Linked DNA regions of Homo sapiens. The protein of the gene in region 4 purifies or fractionates together with the protein of the main gene of each other region. This does not show direct contact. Each region holds a gene or a part of one and is shown on either strand. Other genes may lie near its edges.

What was found.
Region 1: the proteins of OGA (region 4) and IL22RA2 purify together in Homo sapiens (co-immunoprecipitation; one large-scale study listed by IntAct). This does not show direct contact.
Region 2: the proteins of OGA (region 4) and GNS fractionate together in Homo sapiens (co-fractionation; one large-scale study listed by BioGRID). This does not show direct contact.
Region 3: the proteins of OGA (region 4) and PSMB7 fractionate together in Homo sapiens (co-fractionation; one large-scale study listed by BioGRID). This does not show direct contact.
Region 5: the proteins of OGA (region 4) and KLC1 fractionate together in Homo sapiens (co-fractionation; one large-scale study listed by BioGRID). This does not show direct contact.
Region 6: the proteins of OGA (region 4) and ST13 fractionate together in Homo sapiens (co-fractionation; one large-scale study listed by BioGRID). This does not show direct contact.
Region 7: the proteins of OGA (region 4) and DIDO1 fractionate together in Homo sapiens (co-fractionation; one large-scale study listed by BioGRID). This does not show direct contact.

The regions. Positions count from the first base shown.
Region 1 is NC_000006.12:137,163,645-137,167,144, reverse strand, and holds part of IL22RA2 (interleukin-22 receptor subunit alpha-2 isoform 1 precursor), read left to right. Parts: intron 1-3,500. UniProt on the Homo sapiens protein: Isoform 2 is a receptor for IL22. Binds to IL22, prevents interaction with the functional IL-22R complex and blocks the activity of IL22 (in vitro). May play an important role as an IL22 antagonist in the regulation of inflammatory responses.
Region 2 is NC_000012.12:64,742,407-64,745,906, reverse strand, and holds part of GNS (N-acetylglucosamine-6-sulfatase precursor), read left to right. Parts: intron 1-182; coding exon 183-248; intron 249-999; coding exon 1,000-1,098; intron 1,099-2,598; coding exon 2,599-2,766; intron 2,767-3,500. UniProt on the Homo sapiens protein: Hydrolyzes 6-sulfate groups in N-acetyl-d-glucosaminide units of heparin sulfate and keratan sulfate.
Region 3 is NC_000009.12:124,401,943-124,405,442, forward strand, and holds part of PSMB7 (proteasome subunit beta type-7 precursor), read right to left. Parts: intron 3,491-3,500; coding exon 3,375-3,490; intron 1-3,374. UniProt on the Homo sapiens protein: Component of the 20S core proteasome complex involved in the proteolytic degradation of most intracellular proteins. This complex plays numerous essential roles within the cell by associating with different regulatory particles.
Region 4 is NC_000010.11:101,808,445-101,811,944, forward strand, and holds part of OGA (protein O-GlcNAcase), read right to left. Parts: intron 1,871-3,500; coding exon 1,740-1,870; intron 1-1,739.
Region 5 is NC_000014.9:103,632,211-103,635,710, reverse strand, and holds part of KLC1 (kinesin light chain 1), read right to left. Parts: intron 1-3,500. UniProt on the Homo sapiens protein: Kinesin is a microtubule-associated force-producing protein that may play a role in organelle transport. The light chain may function in coupling of cargo to the heavy chain or in the modulation of its ATPase activity.
Region 6 is NC_000022.11:40,846,640-40,850,139, reverse strand, and holds part of ST13 (hsc70-interacting protein), read left to right. Parts: intron 1-1,770; coding exon 1,771-1,846; intron 1,847-3,500. UniProt on the Homo sapiens protein: One HIP oligomer binds the ATPase domains of at least two HSC70 molecules dependent on activation of the HSC70 ATPase by HSP40. Stabilizes the ADP state of HSC70 that has a high affinity for substrate protein.
Region 7 is NC_000020.11:62,888,506-62,892,005, reverse strand, and holds part of DIDO1 (death-inducer obliterator 1), read left to right. Parts: coding exon 1-19; intron 20-850; coding exon 851-1,046; coding exon of another isoform or gene 1,047-1,075; exon of another isoform or gene 1,076-3,500. UniProt on the Homo sapiens protein: Putative transcription factor, weakly pro-apoptotic when overexpressed. Tumor suppressor. Required for early embryonic stem cell development.

The DNA.
Region 1 (3,500 bases), on a different chromosome or scaffold from region 4:
CAAATGCTGGGCCATTGTCTGATCCTAAAGTTAGAGGCAGTCGAAATCTAGGAATAATGTCCTTTAGTAAGATTCTGGTTACTTCCCGAGCTTTCTTTGTCCTGGTGGGAAATGCCTCAACCCACCCTGAGAAAGTGCAGACAAACACTAGCATGCACCGGTAGCCTCCGGTTCGAGGCAGCTCAGTAAAGCCCACATGCAGGTTTTCACAGGGTGTAGCTCCAGTTTCTTGAATCCCTGGGGGCCATGTTGGCCCCTGCTGTGGATTGTTTGGGGCACAAGTTAAACATTACTCATAAATGGCTCGAGTGATGGCAGTTAGGCTCAGCAATAGAAATGCCATCCTACAAGAGTCTCTAATGCAGTTTTTCCCATATGTGTTCCTTGATGAAACTGTTTTATGAACCAGGGGCTATTGCTTCTGGGATAGCTGGCGAGCCTCCCATTTGAGAACTTCCACCAACTTCCTTTCTGGTAACTTCCACTTTCCTGCTCAAACCAAGCCTTTTCATTAGAGGAGTAGTTAGGGGGTTCTGTAAGAGGAAGCTCCAATAAGGGCATGGTAAGGGTTTCCTCTTCCTTCTTAGTTATCGCTGTCATTGCAGCTCTTTTGGCTTCTCTTTCTGCCTTTCTGTTTTCTCTGGCCTTGTCATGTCCTCCTGTTTGATGCCCTTTGCAATGGATGACTGCTACTTCTTTTGGAGCCCATACAGCTTCTAAGAGCTGCTCTATTTCCTTTTTATTTTTGATTTCCTTTCCTTCAGTAGTTAACAATCCTCTTTCCTTATATATGGCTCCATGGGCATGCAAAGTGGCAAAGGCATACCTTGAGTCAGTATAGATGTTTACCGACTTTCTTTGGCCAAAAGCAACACCCTAGTGACAGCTATTATCTCAGCTCTTTGGGCTAAAGTTCCGGCCGGCAGAGGGCAGGTTTCAGCTGCTGAATTCAGTGTTACCACTGCATATCCAGCCCAACTGATAAACCTTTAGATATGAAGCTGCTTCCATCAGCAAAGTATTTAACATGTGGGTCTTTTAAGGGCTAGTCCTTTAAGTCTTTTCAGCTTGAGAAAACTTCATCCACAGTTTCCACACAACAGTGATACCCTGGGCCACACAATGGGGGCTTTCCATGCTCCGCCCATTCTATCAGCAGCAGTGTGGCCGGATTTAGAGTATTCATAGTCTCCAAGGTTAGGTAGGGGATTTCACACAAAAGCCCTTGATATCTTAACATTCTAGGGTTAGAAAGCCAGCAATGTCCCCTCTGCTCCATCAGAGTGACAACCGTGTGGGGCACCCAAATTATTACCATTCCTCTGTTGTTGGGACAGTAAGGGTCTTTATCATGGCTTTTCTTTGACCTAGATTTAGAGTCATGTGCCCTTCTGGTATAAAGGAGATTTGTGCTTGCAATTTCTGGAGGAAATCTCTTCCTAACAAGGGCACCGGAAAATTTGGCATTCATTCTTCTAGTGTCCCATCTGCTTGCATCTCACACATTGATCTCCCTTAAGCCTAAGTTGGCCCTCTTGTCCTGGCTTAGCTTCCTGGTTTTACCTAGTTTGTCCTCTATCATGACCGCAACCACGACCACATCCTCTCACAAAACCAGTTTCTCTTCCAACTAAGGCCACCGCCAGCAAGTCTGCCTTTTCCTTAGCTCTGCATCTAGCTTTTCTCTTGGCCTCCTCCTTCTGATTTACAAACACCTTAGTAGCCACCTGGATAAGCTGGGTAATATTCACACCTTCAAACCCTTCTAACTTCCGATGTCTTCTTGCACCTGGCTTACAAATGCCACATTAACCATACACTGATTACCCGCAGCCTCTGGGTCAAGTGGCATGTAAAGCTGGTAAGCCTCGCACAGCCTCTCATAAAATTCACCGGGACTTTTATCTGGCTTCTGGCGAACCTCTGAGACCTTTCCGATATTGGTGGCCTTTTTCTCTCCAGCGTTTATTCCATTTAGGAGTGCCTCTCAATACTGCTGCAAACTTGTAGCCCTTGAGCCTGGTTAGGGTCCCAGCCTGGGTCAGCCTCTATCAGGAGTGCTTGTTGTGTATACTGCCTGATATCTCCTGTGCTTGAAGATGCATTTTTCTCCAGCCACTGGAGAGCAGCTTGTATAACTCTACGGTGCTCTTCCATATTAAATAATGACAGAAAAAAATGTTTACAATCAACCCAGGTAGGATTGTGAGTTAGGAAAATGGACTGCATTAGATCTATAAGAGCCTGAGGCTTCTCTCTATAGGAGGGAGTATGTTGTCTCCAATTTAAGAGATCAGTAGTAGAGAAGGGCTGATAAAAGAAGAGCTGTTCTCCCCCTTGGACTTCATTCTGTGCATTCAAATAAATTTGTCCCCATGTTTCTCAGAGTGGCATCTGCATTGCTTGGGCACGGACCGACCTAAGGCGGCCGACCTCATCACCCTGGAGTTCCTCCCTTGGCTTTTCAGTCAAGGGCTCTGGCTCCTCTCTGCGTGGTGTTGCCTGAGGGGTGCTTCCTTCTGAGTCTGAGTCTCCGGAGGCAGCCGGGGCAGCCTTCTGTCTAAGCTTTGCCAGAGGTGGATAAATTGGTGCATAGTGGGGTGGAATTTCTAACTCTTCAGGCGGGGCCTGTAGGACAGGTTTTTACTGCTTTTCCTGTGACTTTTCTTTTTCTGATGCCTTGCAGTTTCTTTCTATTGTTCCTGGTTTTGTCTTGGCCGTTAGAGTCTTACAGTAGATCTCAAAGTAGGCCTGCAGCCACTTAGGGAGGGTCTGAATTATACTTAGCCAGGAGTCAATATACGGAAACTGATCCAGGTGCCCGGGCTGTTCTCCAAGCCTGGTGACCACCCGAAACACTCGGCCAATTATCTCCCTGTCTATTGTCCCCTTGGCTGGCCACCCTACATTAAAAGATGGCTATTTTATCTCAAAAAAGTTCTCAGTTTCTGTGAAGTTAGCTTAACCCCATAGTCACCATTAAAACTTTTTTTAAAGTTTTTCAGCACGCACTCCAGTGGAATAGGCTTTGACGCTTTTCCTCCTGTTTCCTCCCTTGTGATGCACTTTCACTCTCACTTTCACTCTTGGATCCACCAGACTGGGTCCTATTACAGGAGGTTCGGACACTGCTTAGCCAGGAGCATGCCTTAATTCCTGTCACAGCTAGCTGCAGCTGTGGAGCTGGTCCTCTGGGCCGTATGCAGTGTCCTAGGTCTGGTTTTTCCCACACTCGCCTGGGAGCACACAGTCCACGCTAAGAGATCTGTGCCTCCCCACATCAACCCCGCCTTGGTCTCTCCCGAGACCATCTCTTTTACACACTTTCACACACCTCCCCCATCCCCAAAATGGTTTTCCTTTCTGACCGACTCATGAGCCCCACTTACGTCTGGTGTCAATTAGGGTGTGAGTTTCATCTGAATCAATGGGCCTCTCCCATTGTCCCAACCCCCTCGGGTCAGACTAGTTGTCATGCCCTTGGAGGTGACCAGGCTCCC
Region 2 (3,500 bases), on a different chromosome or scaffold from region 4:
AACTCCTGCTTTAGAAGTTCCTAGGATTATTAGCGTTTATTTTTGACTAGTGTCTATTTGGGGAAATTAGGTACCTACTATGTTTCAGGCACTGGTCTAAAAAGATTGTAAAATTTCCTGTTTCTTTCTGGTCTGGTCATATCTAAGGACTTGTAATTGTCCCTACTTGTTTTGCTTTTCAGTACGGAGCCCCAGATGCAGGTGGACTAGAACACGTTCCTCTGGGTTGGAGTTACTGGTATGCCTTGGTGAGTGATTATTGAAGTCTGTGACAATTTTATGCAGCCCTACAGATGCAGAATATGTTTAATTTAGCTCTGATATTGACATAACTTTATTTGCTTTTACAATTAGTCATTTTAAAAACCTTAAAATTTATTGACTTGTGGCCAGGTGTAGTGGCTCACGCCTAGAATCCCAACACTTTGGGAGGCAGAGACAGGAGGATCTCTTGAGTTCAGGAGTTCGAGACCAGCCTGGGCAAAATGGCGAGACCCCATTTCAACAAAAAATTTTAAAATTAGCTGGGTGTGGTGGCGTGTGCCTGTAGTCCCAGCTACTCGGGAGGCTGAGGTAAGAAGATCACTTGAGCCCAGGAATTTGAGGCTGCAGTGAGCTGTGATTGTGCCACTGCATTCCAGTCTGGGCAACAAAGAGAGACTCTGTCTCTTTAAAAAAAAAAAAAAAAAAAAAAAAAAAAAAGTCTATTGACTTGTGAGTCACTCCTTTCTGGGATGTTTTTCCTGCATTGTACAAGGTTTAGCAAAGTAGTTTGCTTTTCTACCTGATCTACTTCTGGCTTTTAAACTAGAATGCATAATTGAAACTATGCTTGTCTTTAATAAAACCCTAGTCAAAAAATCCAATTCAGTATTGACTTGAGTAATTATCTTTTTAATGTCTTATCACTGCTCAGAGTAGAGTTTAGCCCAGCACGGATTCAGACTTCCACTTTGTGCACTGACCTCATAACAAATTTGACTTTCCTCTTTTTAATAGGAAAAGAATTCTAAGTATTATAATTACACCCTGTCTATCAATGGGAAGGCACGGAAGCATGGTGAAAACTATAGTGTGGACTACCTGACAGATGTTTTGGTGAGTTGCAGAAGCTTTGTAGCTCTGTCCTTACAGGGTTGGCTCACATTTGATTGAAGACTCTGCCTAGAAAACCTATAATCTTATTCGTTTGTGTTGGGTAATATAAATGCACAGTAACTTGGTCTAACTGCCCAAGAGTATTTCCAGCTGATTACAAACTCCTCAGGGTGTTTTCTTTGTGTATAAGCCAGGCTCAGATCTAATGCTCTTGAAATTCCAGCAACAAATCCCTTTTCCAAAGGTTAATCTCTTCGACTACAGAGATTACTTTGTAGAGGTTTTACTTTGTAAGTGTACCTACTCTTGACCCCGGTTTTACTCACAAGCTACAAGATGTCAGCTTCACAGGCCCCATTATGAGGATGGAGAGATAGGGATACTGGATTTATTTGGGCATTGGGTATTTACATATAAAAATTACTGAAAGCAGGTGAAATTGGGACTTTCCTATTCTGAGGCGTTTCTAATGACAGTCTTCAATAGTATTATATATTCACTCAATAGTTGAGCACCTAGTGTAGCCAGTGTTCAACAGTAAATGAAGCAAAGTCCCTGATTCTGTGGAAGTTAATTTTATTTACACACACAAACACACACAGTCTTACGTGTTGCATCATTAGCTGGTGATCAGTTCGAGAAATAAGTTAGGGTATGAGGTTACTTAGATAACATTTAAGCAGAAACCTGAAGTAGGTGAGAATGAGCTGTGCAGATCAGGGGGAAGAGTGCTACAGAGTCAGGGAATAGTAAGTAGGAGGGCCCTGAGGCAGGAGTATACCTGGCATATTTGAGAAACCACAAGGAAGCTGACAGGACTGGAGTGAAAGGTGGATGGAGGGATTATAGGAGATAGATACAGTCAGTATCTGTTGAGTTAGTGTTGGGAATACATGAAACTACTTCAGAACAATGAAAAACAACATGTATGTAGCATGCTTTCATTTTCATAAAGTATCTCCTGATAAGCAAAGGCAAAACTTAAGTCCATGTATTAAAACCCTAGTGGAATGTATTTGAATCTAATATTATTCACTTAGCTACTTCAGTGCATAATTTATGACATCTACTTTCTACATATTTTCATAAGGTTAAGGTAACTTAATCTACCTTTCCCACTGTTTTAAGTTGACTGTCTTTTTACATTCTTTAAGGCATCACATGTAGATACCATAATCTCCATTAGTGTAAGTTAATAGTAAAATATCCAAGTTACTGTTTCCTTCTTTGTGGGAGACATGATTTCTAGGTCATAAAAAGTCATCAAGATCTTAATTGCCTTCTTATGTTGGTATGCTTCTCAGTTTTTAAAGTATTGCCTAAAAAACAAATATATTTGTTCCAACAATATGCTTGCAAATGGCTATGACATAAGATCATGTGCTAAGATTGCTTAAAAGCTAGTAAGACCCTGTACTGTCTGCTCACCAGAAGACATTTATCTATTAAATACTCATCTGTTGGGTAAGGTAGGAGATGACAAATCTTTTTATGTGTCAGGCTAATGTCTCCTTGGACTTTCTGGACTACAAGTCCAACTTTGAGCCCTTCTTCATGATGATCGCCACTCCAGCGCCTCATTCGCCTTGGACAGCTGCACCTCAGTACCAGAAGGCTTTCCAGAATGTCTTTGCACCAAGAAACAAGAACTTCAACATCCATGGAACGGTAGCTTCCCCCACCACTTGTATTCAGCCATACTAAGTATCATTAACTATATGGTATACTTGTCAGGAAGCCTTTGAGCCATGTAGTGGGTTTTTCTTCACAATATTTTAAAGGTAATTGCATCTGTCCCTAGTACAACCAATAGTATAAACTTGCATTGCAAGTACAGATAAAGTTCCTGCTACACATCCAGTGAGCAGCTGGAGAGTTGACAGGGAATGGTAAAGAATGCCATCTTTCCCAATTTACAGGAATATCACTCAGGCTCTCCTGGTAACCTCTGTGCTGACTCTCCTCCCTCCTGGCATAGCCGGGACTGCACCAGCCTCCTGGTGGCCCTCACTAGCCTTTGAGGCATGGGAAGAAGGGGTGGCACAGAGCAATATGGTTGGAAAGGGAAGTTGAATGGAAAAATGAACGAGGTGACATGATTAAGAACCACAACAACCCATGTATTTGCCTCACGTGCCAATTACTTATACTTCCCTTGGCTTGGTGTATAGACAGTTCCCTGGTTCAAAGACAGAAGGCCTGCATTGCCTCAGGTTTGTTATCCAGAAATTGTAATTGCTTGTAAGGTTATAGAAAGAATGAGTCATAAAGTCAAACTCAGTACTACCACTTTCTAGCTCAGTACAGACTATGAGCACGATGCTTAACTTCATTTTTTCATGTGAAGTGGGAGTTCTTGATCCCTCATGGAACTACTGTATGAATTCAAGTACATAGAAACA
Region 3 (3,500 bases), on a different chromosome or scaffold from region 4:
CGGGAAGCAGGGGTTGCAGCGAGCAGAGATCATGCCACTGCACACCAGACCGGGTGACAGTGCGAGACTCAGTCTCAAAAAAAAAAAAAAGCTGATAAATGAGTGGAGGAACAAACAAGACCTCAAAGTAACAATTTACTTGGGTATTAAAATCAGATGTTACTGATGTCTCATTCTCCTTAATCTGGCATTTTAGGGCAGCAAAACCAGTCTGTGTGGAGTCAGTGGTTTCTAAATAGAATTATTCTATAAACTCAAGAGCTGTGGACCCATCACCCGGAACTCAAATGAGACTTGGACAGACAGGAGGTCACTCTTGGCCAGGAAAAAGCACAAAGTTGGGCGGCAGAAGTAAAATGGGCAGACACAAAGCTGTTTACCTACTCACTTTCAACAACTTTTCCTAATTCAGCTTTATGCTCATGACACAAATTACCACAGTTCACTGGCAAGAGAAACCAATTTTCCCATTTTACAAATGAAGCTGCTTTGTATCAATGTCAAACTTCTTAAATTTGATGACTTTATCAAGGTGACAGAAGAGAACATCTTGAAGGATTCAGAGGTGAAAGGCTGTGGTGCCTGCTATTTACCCTCAAATGGTTCCCCACGCACACGAAACAATGATAGGAATAACAATGTGTGTGTGAGAGGCAGAACACATGTGTCAAAATGCTAACAACTGACACATCTGAGTAAAGGACAGATCAGTGTTTGTTGAACGTTACTGTTACTTTTCTGCAAGTCTGAAATTTAAGTAAAAAAAAGAAAAAATAAAAACTACTTAATAGAAAAGGTTATTCCACCTTTACCACCATTTAAAGGTATCAGATGGGGAGAAATAAAAGCAATACTTTGATGGAGATACCTAATACCTTTGAATAAAGCAATTCAGAACAATTCTAAAATTACCATAAGTATCTTCATTTTAGAATAACTGCAAAGATTCATCCGTATGGTATCTGGGGATAAATCATTCTCCCCAACAAACAGTGAACATCTGTTATATAAAAACCTTGTAAGAGGCTAGATAACAACACAATGGCATAGCAAAGTCTCAAACTGGCAATTTCCAAACTACTCAAGGCAGCAGTTTTCCTAGATGTGGAGCCAAGACACCAAGACAGAAAATATTAAGAGGTAAATGACAGCTGGAAAAACACCAGCTACACGATACACACAACCTGTTCGAATTTCTGGACCTATGCAATTTGACCCAGAAGCAATAATGTAAATGTTAGAACTTGAAAATCCCAATTCTTCTAAATATAATTTTATCACTATTTTTTGCAGTCATTAAAAAAAAAAAAATTATCAGCCACCTGTAATCCCAGCACTTTGGGAGGCTGGAGCAGGCAGATCACCTGAGCCCAGGAGTTCGAGACCAACCTGGGCAACATGGCAAAATCCCATCTCTACAAAAAATACAAAAATTAGATGGGTGTGGCAGAATATGGCTGTAGTCACAGCTACTCAGGAGGCTGCGGTGGGTGGATCACCTGAGCCCGGGGAAGTCGAGGTGGCAGTGAGCTGTGATTGCACCACTGTACTCCAGCCTGTGCAGCAGAGTGAGAGCCTGTCAAAAAATCTCCTAATCTAGCAGCTAGAGCTAAAACATAAATGCAAAAAGCTGGTTAGCAAATGAGGAAGAGAGGGGGCAAAAAAATAACTACTATTTACAGGCCAGGCATTGGAGCACATGCTTTATATACGTTATTTCCAACCATTACAACTTGGTGTGGTAGGTATTACCAATACCACTTCACAGGTAAGGAAATTGAGGTTCAGATAGAAATCAAATACCCCAATCCCTCAGAGATTAAGTAGTAAAGAAGGACCACAATCACTCCTCTAGGTCAAAATGTACCTGCCAAGTTTCAATGTAAGGCTTCTACTCTAGAATTCTACTCAAATCTCACCTTCTTCATAAGACCTGTCCTGACATTTTTTTTTTTTTTTTTTTTAAACAGACAGGGTCTCACTCTGTTGCCCAAGATGTAGTACAATGGCTTGATCACAGCTCATTGCAACCTCAAACTCCTGGGCTCATACAATGCTTCTGCCTCAGGCTCCCAAGCAACTGGGACTACAGGCACACACCACCACACTCAGCTTATATATATATGTGGCACAGACCGGGTCTTGCTATGTTGCCTAGGCTGGTCTTAAACTCCTGGCCTCAAGCAACCCTCCCACCTCAGGCTCCTAAAGCACTAGATTACAGGCATGAGCCACCGTGCCTGGCCCTGATCTTTCTATTTAACACTGCCATCTGCCTCCACCCCAGCCCCTGCCCACAACTCCCAAGTCCCCTTATCATGTGTGAATTTAATTTTTTGTTTTATGATCATTGCAAATTCATATGCAGATGTAAAAAATAGAGCATTTCCATATGAAGTTGACTCAGTTTCTCTCAAAGATAGTATCTTGTGTAACTATAGTACAATATCATCTGTATTACTTTTTTTCTTAGTATCACTTTCTAATACAGGCTGAGTAGCCCTTATCCAAAATGCCAGGGACCAGAAGTGTTTCAGATTTCAGGTTTTGGAATATCTACATTATAACTCACCCAATTCAGCATCCCTAATCCAAAAATCCAGAATCAAAAATGCTCCAATGAGGCTGGGCAGAGTGGCTCATGCCTATAATCCATCCAAGCATTTTGGGAGGCCGAGGTGGGCAGATTACTTGAAGTCAGGAGTTTGACACCAGCCTGGCCAACATGGTGAAACCCCATCTCTACTAAAACTACAAAAAATTAGCCGGGCATGGTGGCGTGTGCCTATCACTCCAGCTACTTGGGAGGCTGAGGCAGAAGAATCACTTGAACCCGGGAGACAGAGGTTGCAGTGAGCCGAGATCATGCCACTGCACTCCAGCCTGGGCAACAGAGCAAAACTCCATCTCAAAAAAGAAAAAAATAATAAAAATAAAAATGTTACAATGAGTATCATGTTAGCACTCAAAAACTTTAGGATTTTGGAGCTTTTCAGATTTCAGACTATAAAAATATATTCATAATACACAGGTTGTATAACCTGTGTATATTTATATATATTTATAATACCTGTGTATTAATTTAGAATACCTGTGTATTATAAATATACTTCTCACAGTTGTTTATTGTCTATTTACCCTCACTAAAATACAAAATCCTCGAGAGCAGGAATCACTATCAGAATTGTGTTGACTGCTATATAGCAAGCACCTAGAACACGGCCTAATCTATAGTAGGAACTCAGTATATATTTGCTGAATGAATCAAAGCATTGTATTGCACCTCCTCTTCTAAGAGAAAACAGACCAGCTCTTCAAGAGACCATCGTGGTAAGTAAGAGTACTCTTAAACATCAGGAAAACGTTACACTCACCCATGGTGACATAAGGCAACTTATCAGTTGATCCATGAGGATAGATGCTGTAGAGGTGAGGTCCAGTAACATCTACTCCCCCTAAAACTAGGGCTGCACCAATGTAACCTTGATACCTGGTGATCA
Region 4 (3,500 bases):
CATGAAAAAGCCAGGCTGTGTCCTAGTCCCAAAAGGCACACTGATCCCTTTGCAGATAAACCTAACCAGGTATGAATCAGAAAGAATAGAATTTTATCAAATAGTAAAATAACTTCATTCATGAAAATTTCAACTGCCTTAAATTTTTTACCAGACATTTTAATGCCACCCATATAAATCTTTGCCTAAAGAAATAAGACATGTATATAGAAAAACCAGCAAACTAAAATAACAGAAAAATGGGGCCGGGCGCAGTGGCTCACACTTGTAATCCCAGCACTTTGGGAGGCCGAGGCGGGCAAACCATGAGGTTAGGAGTTCGAGACCAGCCTGGCAAACATGGTGAAACCCCATCTCTACTAAAAATACAAAAAAATTAGCCAGGTGTGGTAGCACATGCCTGTAATCCCCGTTACTCAGGAGGCTGAGGCCAGAGAATTGCTTGAACCCAGGAGGTAGAGGTTGCAATGAGCTGAGATCGCGCCACTGCACTCCAGCCTGGGCGACAGAGCAAGACTCAGTTTCAAAAAAAAAAAGGAAAATGGAAGCCCCCTACATTGGACCAAAGGAAGTCTGCAGCTTTTACATTAAGCAGACTTTACACTCAATTAGGTTCACCTAGTCTGTTTTTCTTCTCATCTTGGGAAACTAGCCATTTCCAGACATCTCTTCGTCCATATAATTGAAGAAACTAATGTCTAATAGGTAAAACCCTGTTTCTGTAATCTCAGGTGTAAATTCAAGCCAAGCAGCCTAGGGTATATATAATTTCTCAAAATGTGGTTCTTGACCACCAATCACCTAGATTCCCGGTCCCCACCTTATCCATTTGGGAAATAAAGTCCAGCAGTCAGCATTCTTCCAAGCTTCACTTCTAATCATTCTTTTAAGGCAGTTCTTATGCAAACTGAAATTTGAGAAGAACTAGTACCTCCAGTAAAGCTCTTTTTACTTAATTTGGAAAATATTCCTCTATCAGAAGGATTCAAGGCTGGGTGCACTGGCGCACGACTGTAATCCCGGCACTCTGGGAGGCTGAAGTGGGTGAATCACCTAAAGTCAGGAGTTCGAGACCAGCCTGGCCAACGTGGCAAAACCCTGTCTCTACTAAAAATATAAAAATTAGCCAGGCATGGTGGTGTGCCTGTAACAGCTACTCAGGAGGCTGAGGCATGAGAATCGCTTGAACTTGGGAGGTGGAGGTTGCAGTGAGCCGAGATTGGGCCACTGCACTCCAGGCAACAGGGCAAGACTCTGTCTCAAAAAAAAAAAAAAAGAAAAAAAAAGCATTCAAAGTAAAAAAAATTCTTATAGAAACAAAGAAATAAAAAACCAGGCATGGTGACTCACACCTGTAATCCCAGCACTTTGGGAAGATCATGAGGTGAGCAGTTCGAGACCAGCCTGGCTGGCATGGTGAAGGCCCTGTCTCTACTAAAAATACAAAAATTAGCCAGGCATGATGGCACGCACCTATAGTCCCAGCTACTCGGGAAGCTGAGGCAGGAGAATCACTTGAACCCGGGAGGCGGAGGAGGTTGCAGTGAGCCGAGATTGTGCCACTGCACTCCAGTCTGGGCGACAGAGCAAGACTCTGTCTCAAAAAACAAAACAAACAAACAAAAAAAGAAAACAAAGAAATAGGAATTTGATTTCCTTTTAACATCGTAAAAGCAACTGAGTAAACTTCTAGTTTCAAGTACATAGTCAGGAAAAATGAATAAAAAGTAAGGAGTTACCTGGTCCAATTTACGTTTCAATGTGGATACTTCCTTGGGGTTAGAAAAAGTGATATCCAATCCAGGTGAGATCGCATAGATGAACTCTATCTCATATTCTCGTGCAGCAGAGATGAGAGTCATAAGTTGCTCTAAAGAACAGAGTCTATGTTTTTAGAAAGCAGAACAGAAAACTAAAAGAACCTTCACTGAAGGTTTAACTGAAGAGGTTATTTCTTCTAACTTACAAGAAAGGAAAAGATCCTCACATTTTACAAATTGTCATGTCCAACTTAACAACAGGCCATACAAAATGGTACAAGCCTGAAGTGATTTAATGTCACAGTAAGGGAAAAAGAATAGTTTTCACACCTTTGAAATCTGAACCAACAGAAAATAAGAGGCCCTTCTTTTTCACTTCCAAATAGTTTCTTATCCTTTTGGGGAAACAGGCTAAAATCAATAAACATTTTCCTCCCTTTCATTGCCACTTCTCAAAAACACTGAATTGTCAATTCTCTTACTGAACTTAAGCCATTTCTATTTCCTGCAGCATTTGAAAGGCATAAAATGCAGCCGCTGCTTTTTTATTTTGAGAGCCTTGCTCTGTTGCCCAAGGCTGGAGTGCAGTGGCACGATCCTGACTCACTGCAACCTCCACCTCCTGAGTAGGTGGGATTACAGGCATACCCGGCTAATTTTTGTTTAGTAGAGATGAGGGTTTTGCCATATTGCCCAGGCTGGTCTCGAACTCCTGGCCTCAAGTGATCCGCCTGCCTTAGCCTCTTACAGTGTTGGGATTGCAGGCATGAGCCATGGTACTGGATCTTGCTTTTTTTTTTTGTTTTGCCATCTCTGAACAGCTGGAATTCCTAACTAAATAAACCTACACATAACTACTTTATAATATGAAAGAAAGAAAATGCTTTCTTAAGAATCAGGGTAGGCCAGGCCCAATGGCTCATGCCTGTAACCCCAGGACTTTGGGAGGCCAGGCAGGAGGACTGCCTGAGGTCAGGAGTTTGAGACCAGCCTGGTCAACATTGTGAAACCCCATCTCTACTAAAAATACAAAAATTAGCCAGGCGTGGTGGCGCATACTTGTAATCCCAACTACTAGGGAGGCTGAGGCAGGAGAATTGCTTGAACCCTGGAGGCAGAGGTTGCAGTGAGCCAAGATCGCACCACTGCACCCCAGTCTGGACGACACAGCAAGACTCCATCTCAAAAAATGAAAAAAAATGAAAAAAAAAAAAAAAAAAAAAAAAAATGAATCACACCTGTAATCCCAGCACTTTGAGAGGCCACGGCAAGTTGACTGCTTGAGTTCAGGAGTTTGAGACCAGCACAGGCAACATGGCAAACCCCTCTCTCTACAAAATATACAAAAATTAGCTGGGTGTGGTGACCCGCGCTTGTAGTCCCAGCTACTTGGGGGACTGAGGCGGGAGGATTGCTTGAGCCGGGGAGATCAAAATTGCAGTGAGTCACTGCACTCCAGCCTGGGTAACAAAGTGACAAACGCTGTCTCCAAAAAAAGAAAAAGAAAAAGAACCAGAGTTAAGTCATGGCCTTAACAATCTTGACCTGTTTCTATCTATGGGAAAAACATTAATTATAGATTTTAACCTTTTAAAATTATCAATTGACAATTTTCCTAAATCAACTTAACTACTACTAGTATATACTATAAGACATATTTTTGAATAATTTTCAGTAGTATCTCAAGATAGTCATTTTTACTCTATTTTGATTATTGATCACATTAAGTTTCATTACCAG
Region 5 (3,500 bases), on a different chromosome or scaffold from region 4:
CTCGATCTGGCTCACTGCAACCTCCGCCTCCCGGGTTCAAGTGATTCTCCTACCTCAGCTTCCCAAATACCCGGGACTACAGAAGCATACTACCACACGCGGCTAATTTTATATTTTTAGTAGAGACAAGGTTTCACCCATGTTGGCCAGGCTGGTCTCAAACTCCTGACCTCAGGTGATCCGCCCTCCTCAGCCTCCCAAAGTGCTGGGATTACAGACATTAGCCACCAAGCACAGCCTTTTATTTTTTTAAGAAACAAGGTCTCACTATATTGCCCAAGCTAGTTTGAACTCCTGGGCTCAACTGATTCTCCCACCTCAGCCTTCGGAGTAACTGAAACTACAGACACATATGACATCCGCAGGGTTTACAGTACCTATTTTCTCTGGAACAGTGCAAACATCACTCTGATCAGTTTTAGTAGCAGCATAGTGAACTTCAGAGAAGCCTGAACATAAATTTATGTTATGCAACTGAAGTCAGGGAACAATCTATGGTTTAAATGAAGGTAACAGATATTTTAGAACCAAGGAAGTAACTCAGTTCACGTATGCACGTAACTCAGCTTAACATGTTTGCTCCATATCCGTTGCTTTAAGTTCAGATAGCACTTTTCAAATTCAAAAAGCATATATGCAAACTGCTTTCATCTGCCTCCAAAAATTAGTTAAAACTAAAAAAAAATCATAATTCATTTCTGATCCATGAGTATACTAACTAGGAGGCTACAGAGTACAACGCCACAAAGGATGCCTTGGGAGAACGAATGAAGATCATCTCGAAATAGCCTCCATCCTTAAGAGGTAATATTCTCAGGAAACAGGCAACAGGCCGGGTGCAGTGGCTCAAACCTGTAATCCCGACACTTTGGGAGGCCACGGCAGGCAGATGGCTTGAGCCCAGGAATTCGAGACCAGCCTGGGAAACACAGTGAGACCCCCGTCTCTACATAAACTATATTTAAAAAAAAAAAAGTTAAAGGTCATTAGTAACCTCCTAGAAGCAAAATCCATAGAGACTTCTCAGTCCAACCCATCACTGACTTCTTAGCCAATTTGCTACTGATCTCCTCCCTCCTCTTCTCTTGGTTTCCCAGGACCCTCTCCTCTTAGACCCACTCCCCATCTCTACCAGATGGACATCACACCCGACTGGCTCAACGATATGATGCAGTCTCTGGAATCTTTACCTCCAGCCTCAGCCTCTGTCTTGAGCTCCAAAGATGTATCTCTAACTGCCCACTAGTCCACTTGGCTGCCCCACAAGCACTTCAGATTTAACATGTCCAAAAACAAACTCATAATCTCATCCTTCTCCCATTTTCCCTCCTTGGATGAGTGTCACCAGCCAGTGAATCACCCAAATTAGAGATGAGGATCATTCTAGATGCATTCCTTCAACAAACATTTACTAAGTTCCTATTACACGCCAAGCACCGACACTGAATACAAGAGACAAAACTCCCCATCCTTGTGGAGGTTATGAATGTTAAGTGGAGACAAACAATAAAAATTTTAAAATGATTAAAATAATACAGTATTGGCCAGGCACGGTGGCTCAGGCCTGTAATCCCAGCACTTTGGGAGGCTGAGGCAGGTGGATCACTTAAGGTCAAGAGTTCGAGACCAGCCTGGCCAACATGGTGAAATCCTGTCTCTACTAAAAATACAAAAATTAGCTAGGTGTGGTGGCACATGCCTGTAGTCCCAACTACTTGGGAGGCTGAGGCAGGAGAATGGCTTGAACCCGGGAGGCAGAGGATGCAGTGAGCTGAGATCATGCCACTGCACTCCATCCTGGGTGACAGAGCGAGACTCCGTCTCAAAAAGTAATAATAAAAAAAAAATAATAATAATACAGCATTTAAGATAGTGAGGTGTGCTAAGGAGAAAAATCAGGGCAGAGGCTAAGGAGTATGTGGGGAAGTGAAGAAATGCTAATCACTACAAGAATGGGTTTGGTTCAGAACTCCAGATGCACCTGGAAGTGCTTGAGTAGGGCCAGAGCAGGAAGATGAAAAGAGACAGGGTGGGGTGCTCAGAGGACACTGACAAAAGCTTTAACAGAGGAGTGACTCAGGTTTTCACAGGATCATTCTGGGGAGTCCTCCCTGCAGCTCCTCATTTACCCCAATCCAGTCAGCCCCAAATCAGCTCCACTATAACCCTTACAGCCCAGCCCCTGCCCCCACCTAGCTTCTCTGTTCCTTCTGTCACTGCCCTAATCCTGAGGCTTGCCGAGTTGGGGTTAATGGCTTCCTAATTAACCTCATCCCAGTTCACAGCACCTGCCCCACCACTGCCTATGCTCTTTCTAAAGTGGCAACTGGCTCCTCAGAATCTTCCAACCCTCCGGCCAGGCGCGGTGGCTCACGCCTGTAATCCCAGCACTTTGAGAGGCCAAGGCGGGCGGATCACGAGGTCAGGAGATGGAGACCATCCTGGCTAACGTGGTGAAACCCCGACTCTACTAAAAATACAAAAAATTAGCCGGATGTGGTGGCACGCACCTGTAGTCCCAGCTACTCGGGAGGCTGAGGCAGGAGAATCACTTGAACCTGGGAGGTAGAGGCTGCAGTGAGCAGAGGTCGTGCCACTGCGTTCCAGCCTGGGTGACAGAGCAAGACTCCATCTCAAAAAAAAAAAAAATCTTCCAACCCTCCTTTGTAAACCTCAGAATGAAAGCAGACTTCTAAGAAGTCATTCAAGGCCTTTCCTAACCTCGTCTTTCCACACTCACTCCCATGTCCCCTTCCCAACATGCCCCTTTACAGCAGCACAACCTCAGGATTTATTTCCTCCAAGCAGGAACCCCAATCCCAATCCCACCCCTGACCCCCTGACACTGGCTGATTGGTACTTTTCTTTTGTGAAGAATCGCCTCCTCAGTGCACTCCACAGCCTTTAACCTGGTCTGTGGTACCTGCCCATGCCAGCCTGTGAGCTCCTAGAGGACAGAGTTTTTTTGTTTTTTGGTTTTATTTTTTTTGAGGCAGAGTTTTGCTCTTGTTGCCCAGGCTGGAGTGCAATGGCGTGATCTCGGCTCACTGCAACCTCTGCCTCCCCAGTTCAAGCGATTCTCCAGCCTCAGCCTTCTGAGTAGCTGCGATTAGAGGCACCCGCCACCACACCCGGTTTTGGTTTTTTTTGTATTTTTAGTAGAGACAGGGTTTCACCATGTTGTCCAGGCGGGTCTCAAACTCCTGACCTCAGGTGATCGGTCCATCTTGGCCTCCCAAAGTGCTGGGATTACAGGAGTGAGCCACTGCACGGCTGACAGCGGCTCTTTTTGTTTGTTTTGAGACGGAGTCTGGCTGGACTGCAGTGACGTGATCTCGGCTCACTACAACCTCCACTTCCCGGTTCAAGCGATTCTCCTTCCTCAGCCTCATGAGTAGCTGGAATTACAGGTGTGCACCACCACACCTGGCTAATTTTTGTATTTTTGGTAGGGACGGGGTTTCACCATGTTGGCCAGGCTGGTCTTAAACTCCTGACCT
Region 6 (3,500 bases), on a different chromosome or scaffold from region 4:
ATTACAGGTGCATCCCACCATGCCTGGCTAATTTTTCTATTTTTAGTAGAAATGGGGTTTCGCCATGTTGGCCAGGTGGGTCTCGAACTCCTGACCTCAACTGATCTCTCAGCCTCCCAAGGTGCTGGGACTAAGGCGTGAGCCACCATGCCTGGCCCAGAATGCTTTCTTCATAATTTTTTATTTCTCTCTTCTGCCTTCATATCTAAAAGGCTTTTTTTTTTTTTGCAAATTTTCTGATTAGCTGTCTTAAATCGACAAGAAAATAGCTGTTTTATTATTTAGAAACTTAAACATTGTTATCTATTTGGATCTTAAAGTGGAAGTTATGTCTATTAAGAAGGAGAATGCGAAAAGGTAAGCAAAAGCCCAAAAAGTAGTTACCTTTTTTTTAAAAGGACCATTTATCAGAGTGGTATTTTCTGAGCCCTAGATATTTTGCTATTTGGCAAATGTGTATGAAGGCAAAATTATATTTAACCTATGTGTCAGCTGAAAATTTTTTGTAAGAAAAACATTCTAAACTAGAATTATGGCTTGTCTTTTCTTTTCAATATATTCTAGAATACCTAGACTTTGCACATTTTATAGGGACTCAACAAATATTTTGTGACAAGGTAGGTTTTTGGTTCTAATTTTTTTTTTTTTTTTTTTTTTTTTGAGACAGAGTCTCACTCTGTTGCCCAGGCTGGAGTGCAGTGGTGCGATCTCTTGGCTCATTGCAAGCTCTGCCTCCCAGGTTCACGCCCTTCTCCTGCCTCAGCTTCCTGAGTAGCTGGGACTACAGGTGCCCACCACCACGTCCGGCTAATTTTTTTGTGTTTTTAGTGGAGAAGGGGTTTCACCATGTTAGCCAGGATGGTCTCAATCTCCTGACCTCGTGATCCACCCACCTCGGACTCCCAAAGTGCTGGAATTACAGGCATGAGCCACTGCGCCCTGCCTTGGTTCTAATTTTTTAAGTAACAGGGAAGCAACCTAAAAATGGTTAACAATATATGGTTGAGTGAATAGATGAAGGTAGGCTGATAATGGTATATAATTTACAAGATACACAGCGTTGTTAAATGCAAAAGGCAAAGGATAGAGTTGTTTCATATATAGAGAGACTATCCTGCAATGGGATATACAAGAAACCACACTGGTTATTTATAGGATGGGAAGAAAGTGTTGCTTTCTATATGTCGTGCACTTTTAAATTCTTTGAATTTTCATTGTTTATTATTGTAATTCCACAGGTTCTTATTTGCAGTTCCAAAACTCAAAAACCCTTGTAAAGATTTTTACTAAATTTGGCAATAAAATATAATGTGAGTGGACATGAGGCTATTTATAATCTCTAAACTGTTTATTGTCAATGTTCAAACTTTATTTTGAACAGTTGTTTTTTTATTTTTGAGACACAGTCTTGCTCTGTCGCCCAGGCTGGAGTGCAGTGGCATGATCTCAGCTCACTGCCACCTCCGCCTCCCAGGTTCAAGTGATTGTCCTGCCTCAGCCTCCCAAGTGGCTGGGATTACAAGCGGGCACCACCACGTCCGGCTAATTTGTATTTTTAGTAGAGATGGTTTCACCGTGTTGGCCAGGCTAGTCTTGAACTCCTAACCTCAAATGATCCACCCACCCCAGCCTCCCAAAGTGCTGGAATTCCAGGCATGAGCCGCCATGCCTGGCCATATTTGACAGTTTATACATAGATTTGTAGAAATTAGTATAAATATTCGGTATGTTATTAAATACTGATAGTACTGTTTGTCTTCCCTTTGCTAGGAAGAAAAACCTGATAGTAAGAAGGTGGAGGAAGACTTAAAGGCAGACGAACCATCAAGTGAGGAAAGTGATCTAGGTGAGGAGACGGTAGTTAGTTTGTATTTGAAAACCTATGATGTGATACTTTGTTGATTTTTATTAAAGTGACTTAAATCAGCACTGTGTAATAGAAATATAATGGCACATATGAAACTTAGAATGTTCTAGTAGTCACATTTTAGAAAGTAAAAGGAAACATGAAATAAATTCAGATATTAATGGCATATTGGTTGAAATATTGACATGTGTAATCAATATTTTTTTTTGTTTTTTTGTTCTTTTTGAGATGGAGTCGTGCTCTTGTCACCCAGACTGGAGTGCACTGGCACAATCTCGGCTCACTGCAACCTCCACCTCCCAGGTTTAAGCCATTCTCCTGCCTGAGCCTCCCGAGTAACTGGGATTAGAGGAACCTGCCACCACACTCGGCTAATTTTTATAATTTTAGTAAAGACGGGCTTTCACCATGTTGGCAAGGCTGGCCTCGAACTCCTGACCTCGTGATCCACCCACCTTGGCCTCCCAAAGTGCTGAGATTACAGGCGTGAGCCACTGCACCTGGCCTCAATATTTGTTAATAATTTATTTTGCTTCTTTTTTTAATAGCATTCAAACTCCAAAGGGTATTTTACACATGTGGCACCCCTCAATTCAGGTTTTACATTTTCATTGATAATAAATCAGACTTCATAATGTTTGTATTAGAAAAAGTTGGGTTACATATTAAAGTTGTTCTAAGCATACTTAAAAAGTTTTCTTTTTTTTTTTTTTTTTCTTTTTTTGAGACGGAGTCTCACTGTGTCGCCCAGGCTGGAGTGCAGCAGTGTGATCTCAGCTCACTGCAGCCTCCACCTCCCAGGTTCAATCAATTCTCATGCCTCAGCCTCCCTAGTAGCTGGGACTACAGGCGTGTGCCACCAGGCACGGCTAATTTTTGTATTTTTTTTTTTTTGTAGAGACAGGGTTTTGCCATGTTGCCATGTTGGTCAGGCTGGTCTTGAACTCCTGATCTCAGGTGATCCACCTGCCTTGGCCTCCAAAGTGTTTGGGATTACAGATGTGAGCCACCATGCCCAGCCAAAAGTTTTCCCATAACTGAATTGAGTGCCAAAAAATAGTATTTGTTTAGTTCTTACAACCATGTTGATAAAACTGGTTCATATTTAGAAGAGTAGTTATCTGTGCTATGAGTTTGGTTGGTTTTTTGGCCACAAATTGACTAAATTTCTTCATGAATTTGGAAGTCTCTTATATCACAGAACCTGAAGAAAAGTACTTGAAATGTTTTAAATTTTGAATCAGTTTTTTTTTGTTGTTTTTTTGGGGTTTTTTTGGAAGACTTGAGTTTCGCTCTGCCACCCAGGCTGGAGTGTGGTGGCACAGTTTCGGCTCACTGCAACCTCTCCCTCCTGGGTTCAAGCGAGTCTCCTGCCTCAGCCTCCTGAGTAGCTGGGACTACAGGCGTATGCCACCATGCCTGGCTAATTTTTTTGTATTTTCAGGAGAGACAGAGTTTCACCATGTTGGCCAGGCTGGTCTCAAACTCCTGACCTCGGGTGATCTGCCCGTCTTGGCCTCCCAGAGTTCTGGGATTACAGGTGTGAGCCACCACGCCTGGCCTGAATCAAATTATCTTTGATATCATTAGAGGTCTTACATTCTACTGGCAGTTGTTTGAGTGCTAAATTGAA
Region 7 (3,500 bases), on a different chromosome or scaffold from region 4:
CAAGTCTTCTGTGTCTAAGGTACCTGCTTATAGTATAAATTCTGCAACCATGGAAAATTGTGTTGATTTAAACACATCTTTTTTTAACCTCTCGTTTGGATGGGTTAACACTTAAAATGTTAGCCTGTAGCTTACTAGATATTTCCAGGTGAATGTTAAAAATTAAGTTTTGCAGTGAGCCGAGATCGCACCACTGCACTCCAGCCTGGGAGACATAGCAAGACTGTCTCAAAAAAAAAAAAAGTTTACATAGTTGTATGACTGTGTGAAGGTGTCTGAGTGTGCCGCGGTAGAAGTTTGTTTCTGATTTATTATAATGTATGTGCGGTTAAATTTTAGGAAGAAATAGATACGTTTTATTTTCTTGTTTTTTTATGATTGAAGGAGCAGAAGGTGTCTTTTGCAGGGGTGATCAGGCTCAGGGCACTCAACCTGGGCTCTTGAACGGTTCTGGTTTTCTGGGACCCCCTGAGATTTAGCTACAGCTGTGCGTGTCTGTCTGTGGTTTTCTCTGGGGAATCTCTGTAGTCTTCGTCAGGTTCACGAAAGGGCTAGACCCTGTCGTCTAGTTTAACCCCCTCTAGGGAGGGGCACAGACAGCCATTGCAGATCATGCAGCTGGTTCCTCGTGACCGGGGCCGTCGTGCATGTAGGAAGAGCCGGCTCGGCTCCAGACACTGCTGGGCTCACATGTCACGTGAATTGCCTCACTGAGACAGCAGCTCTGTGAGATCGTGGCTGTGAGTCGGAGAGATCTGACAAGGTTTCCTGTTGAAAGCAGGATGTGAATTGGGCGTGTGATGCTTGAGCCACATTTTCTTTATGAGTGCTTCCCACTCTTCCATTGCAGGAGCTCTGTCTGATCCGCTTCCACCCCGCCACAGAGGAAGAGGAGGTCGCCTATATCTCTCTCTACTCCTATTTCAGCAGCCGTGGCCGCTTTGGTGTTGTAGCTAATAACAACAGGCACGTCAAGGACCTCTACCTGATCCCGCTGAGCGCCCAGGACCCTGTTCCATCCAAACTCTTGCCCTTTGAGGGACCAGGTAAGCGCCGGCTTTCTGGGTGGAGGTGAGGCCCACCTGCACCTGCACCCCTCCTCCCACTGACATGCCCTGCTGAGTCCTGACCAGCCCAGGGCTCTCTGGGAGCAGGAGTTAGGAGCACAGACGCAGCGGTTAGCAATAGGATTCATCTTTGAGGGCGTAGGACTGTGGCACGAGAAGTACCCCTGATTCACAGCATAAATTGTCTTAGGAGAGTTTTTTAGAGAGGGAAAAACCCACAGCCTGCAACCAGCTCATCTTGGCCTCAGGTCAGAGAAGACTCAGTGCCCAGAAGCCCAAGGCTCAGCCAGAAAGGGAGGTGACACTCCCAGCGGCCCTGCTCTTTCCTCTAGACAGACTCGGGAGCCAGCACACACCGGGAAGTGGCTCCATCAGGGATCACTTCTCTAACAGGGATGGATTTCCAGGAGACTTAACAATAATGACATAGAAAACTATTTCTAGAAATAATTATTTTAAAATCTGCAGCTCAAATTGTAATAGGTTCATTCATCTTTGGCAAGCTATTTTGTGTTTGCACGTTCCTTGGAAAGTACTGTATTTAAACGATTATTTACAAATAGCCTAAAATACATCTTTGTCAAGGGTTGAGGGTGATTCCAGGGGCCACGTGCTCTGTTAGTGACCAGCTCTTTCATAGCCCCTTAGAAGAAGCTGATGTGACTTCAGTTAGGGGTTAGTATCTGATGCCCAACTGAAGTGTCTCCGTGGCCATGCAGTCCCCAGAGGATTGGTGTTCTCTCAAAGCGGGTGTGTGGATCACACAGTGTCCTCTGAAGTGCTTCGTCATAAAGGCAGGTGCTGTCTGGACCCTGTGCCTCAGTGCCCTCTGTCCCTGTCACCAGGCCTCGGCGGGTGTTCCTGCCATAGCTGTGCAGGGTGTTCCCACCCACACCCCTCATGCCGCACCCTAGCTAGCTGGGGTCCTGTAGGGGCCACTCCACATCTTGGGCGGGACTTCTGTCGCCCCAGGCACAGCCCACGTTCCTACTGGAGCCCATTCTTCACAGCTGGAGTGGGCTCAGCCTATGCCTGTGTTGTGGAATTATATGTCCATAAAGGGATTGGTTGGTATCAGTAATTTCAGGGTTAAATATTTGCTGGCGTGGTGCATTAAATTATTTTAGTGCCAGATAAATTTTTAAAAGCAAAGTGCTTTAGTGTGTCCCCTCAAATCCTACTTGGGATAAAGAGATGCCACCTAATGGGTGGCAGAAAGGACCCTGGTAGAGGTTCTTGGTGTTGCTTGTGAAGAGCTCTGGCCAGCTCCACGTGACCAGGGAGAGGAAAAGCCCGGCCCTCCTGGAGGTGAAGACCGAGAAGCTGGCCTCTCCGCACCTGTGAAGACCCACTGGTCAGTTGCAAGTGCGACAGTGTGTGCACTCAGTGCAGACACTGCAGCACCTCAGCACCTCCCTACCGGGGTGGAAAGAGCACTTTTTCTTTACAGAAACATGATTCTTAGATAGCGAGCCTCCCCTTTTTAAAACAATTGAGGCGATATTTCATCCTTTCTTGAGCTTCTCTCCCTGCTCATCTCCAAACTTGGAGCTGTCAGGTGAGCACGGTTGTAGGGTGTTGAGCGAGCCCCGGCGCATGCCGGGCACCGGGTTCCCCACACTGGGCAGTGACGGGGCCCAGGGAGGCCACCAGAGGAGCGGCGCCTCCATTCTCCCCACAGCAAGGGCTGGCTGTGCAGGTGCAGCCCCGGGGCAGAGGGAAAGGACAGGTCTCCCAGCACCTCCCGGATGGCACCGGGACAAGGAGGGCTGGGCTGGGGTCACTCACCTTGTCTGCTGAGTGCGATGGCACCAACCACCCACACTGTCAGCTCCGCGACCAGCTGGGGGAACGTCACACTCGCCCACCAAGGCACTTGCTGAGGCCACGACGCCGCCTGACGGGGACACACAAAAGCCCCAGGGACTTTGATCCACGATAAAGAGCAGAGGCGTCTGGGTAAAGTAACACAGGGCAAGGGACTTTAGAAAAGTAACAGCTAGTGAAACCTTTCCATACACTTCAGAAATGTTTTAACTTAAGACTTCAGTATAATGTTAACTTCTCCTGATGTCCTTGTTGACATGAATGCGTGTGCGTGAAATCTCACACACTTCCATGGTCACTAAACAGCCTTCACCCCGGGCCAGGCCATCGGGTACTCGGCCCGCTTCACGTACTGATTACTTGACTTGGCGTTTTCTAGATATAAACATGTACATGTGTGTCCTGGCTTTGTGGTGTAAATGTGTAGTGCGTGTGCATGTGCGCGCGTGTGTGTGTGTAAGGCTAGGTCCTGGCATGTTTCCCCTGTCTCAGCGGACCCTGTCCTCACGGAGATAGCCCAGAAGCCCTTGGACAGCACAGGCCACACCTGAGGGTGCTGATGGTGGTGACTCCACAGAGCTGTGGTCAGGGGTGAGCGTGTGCTGC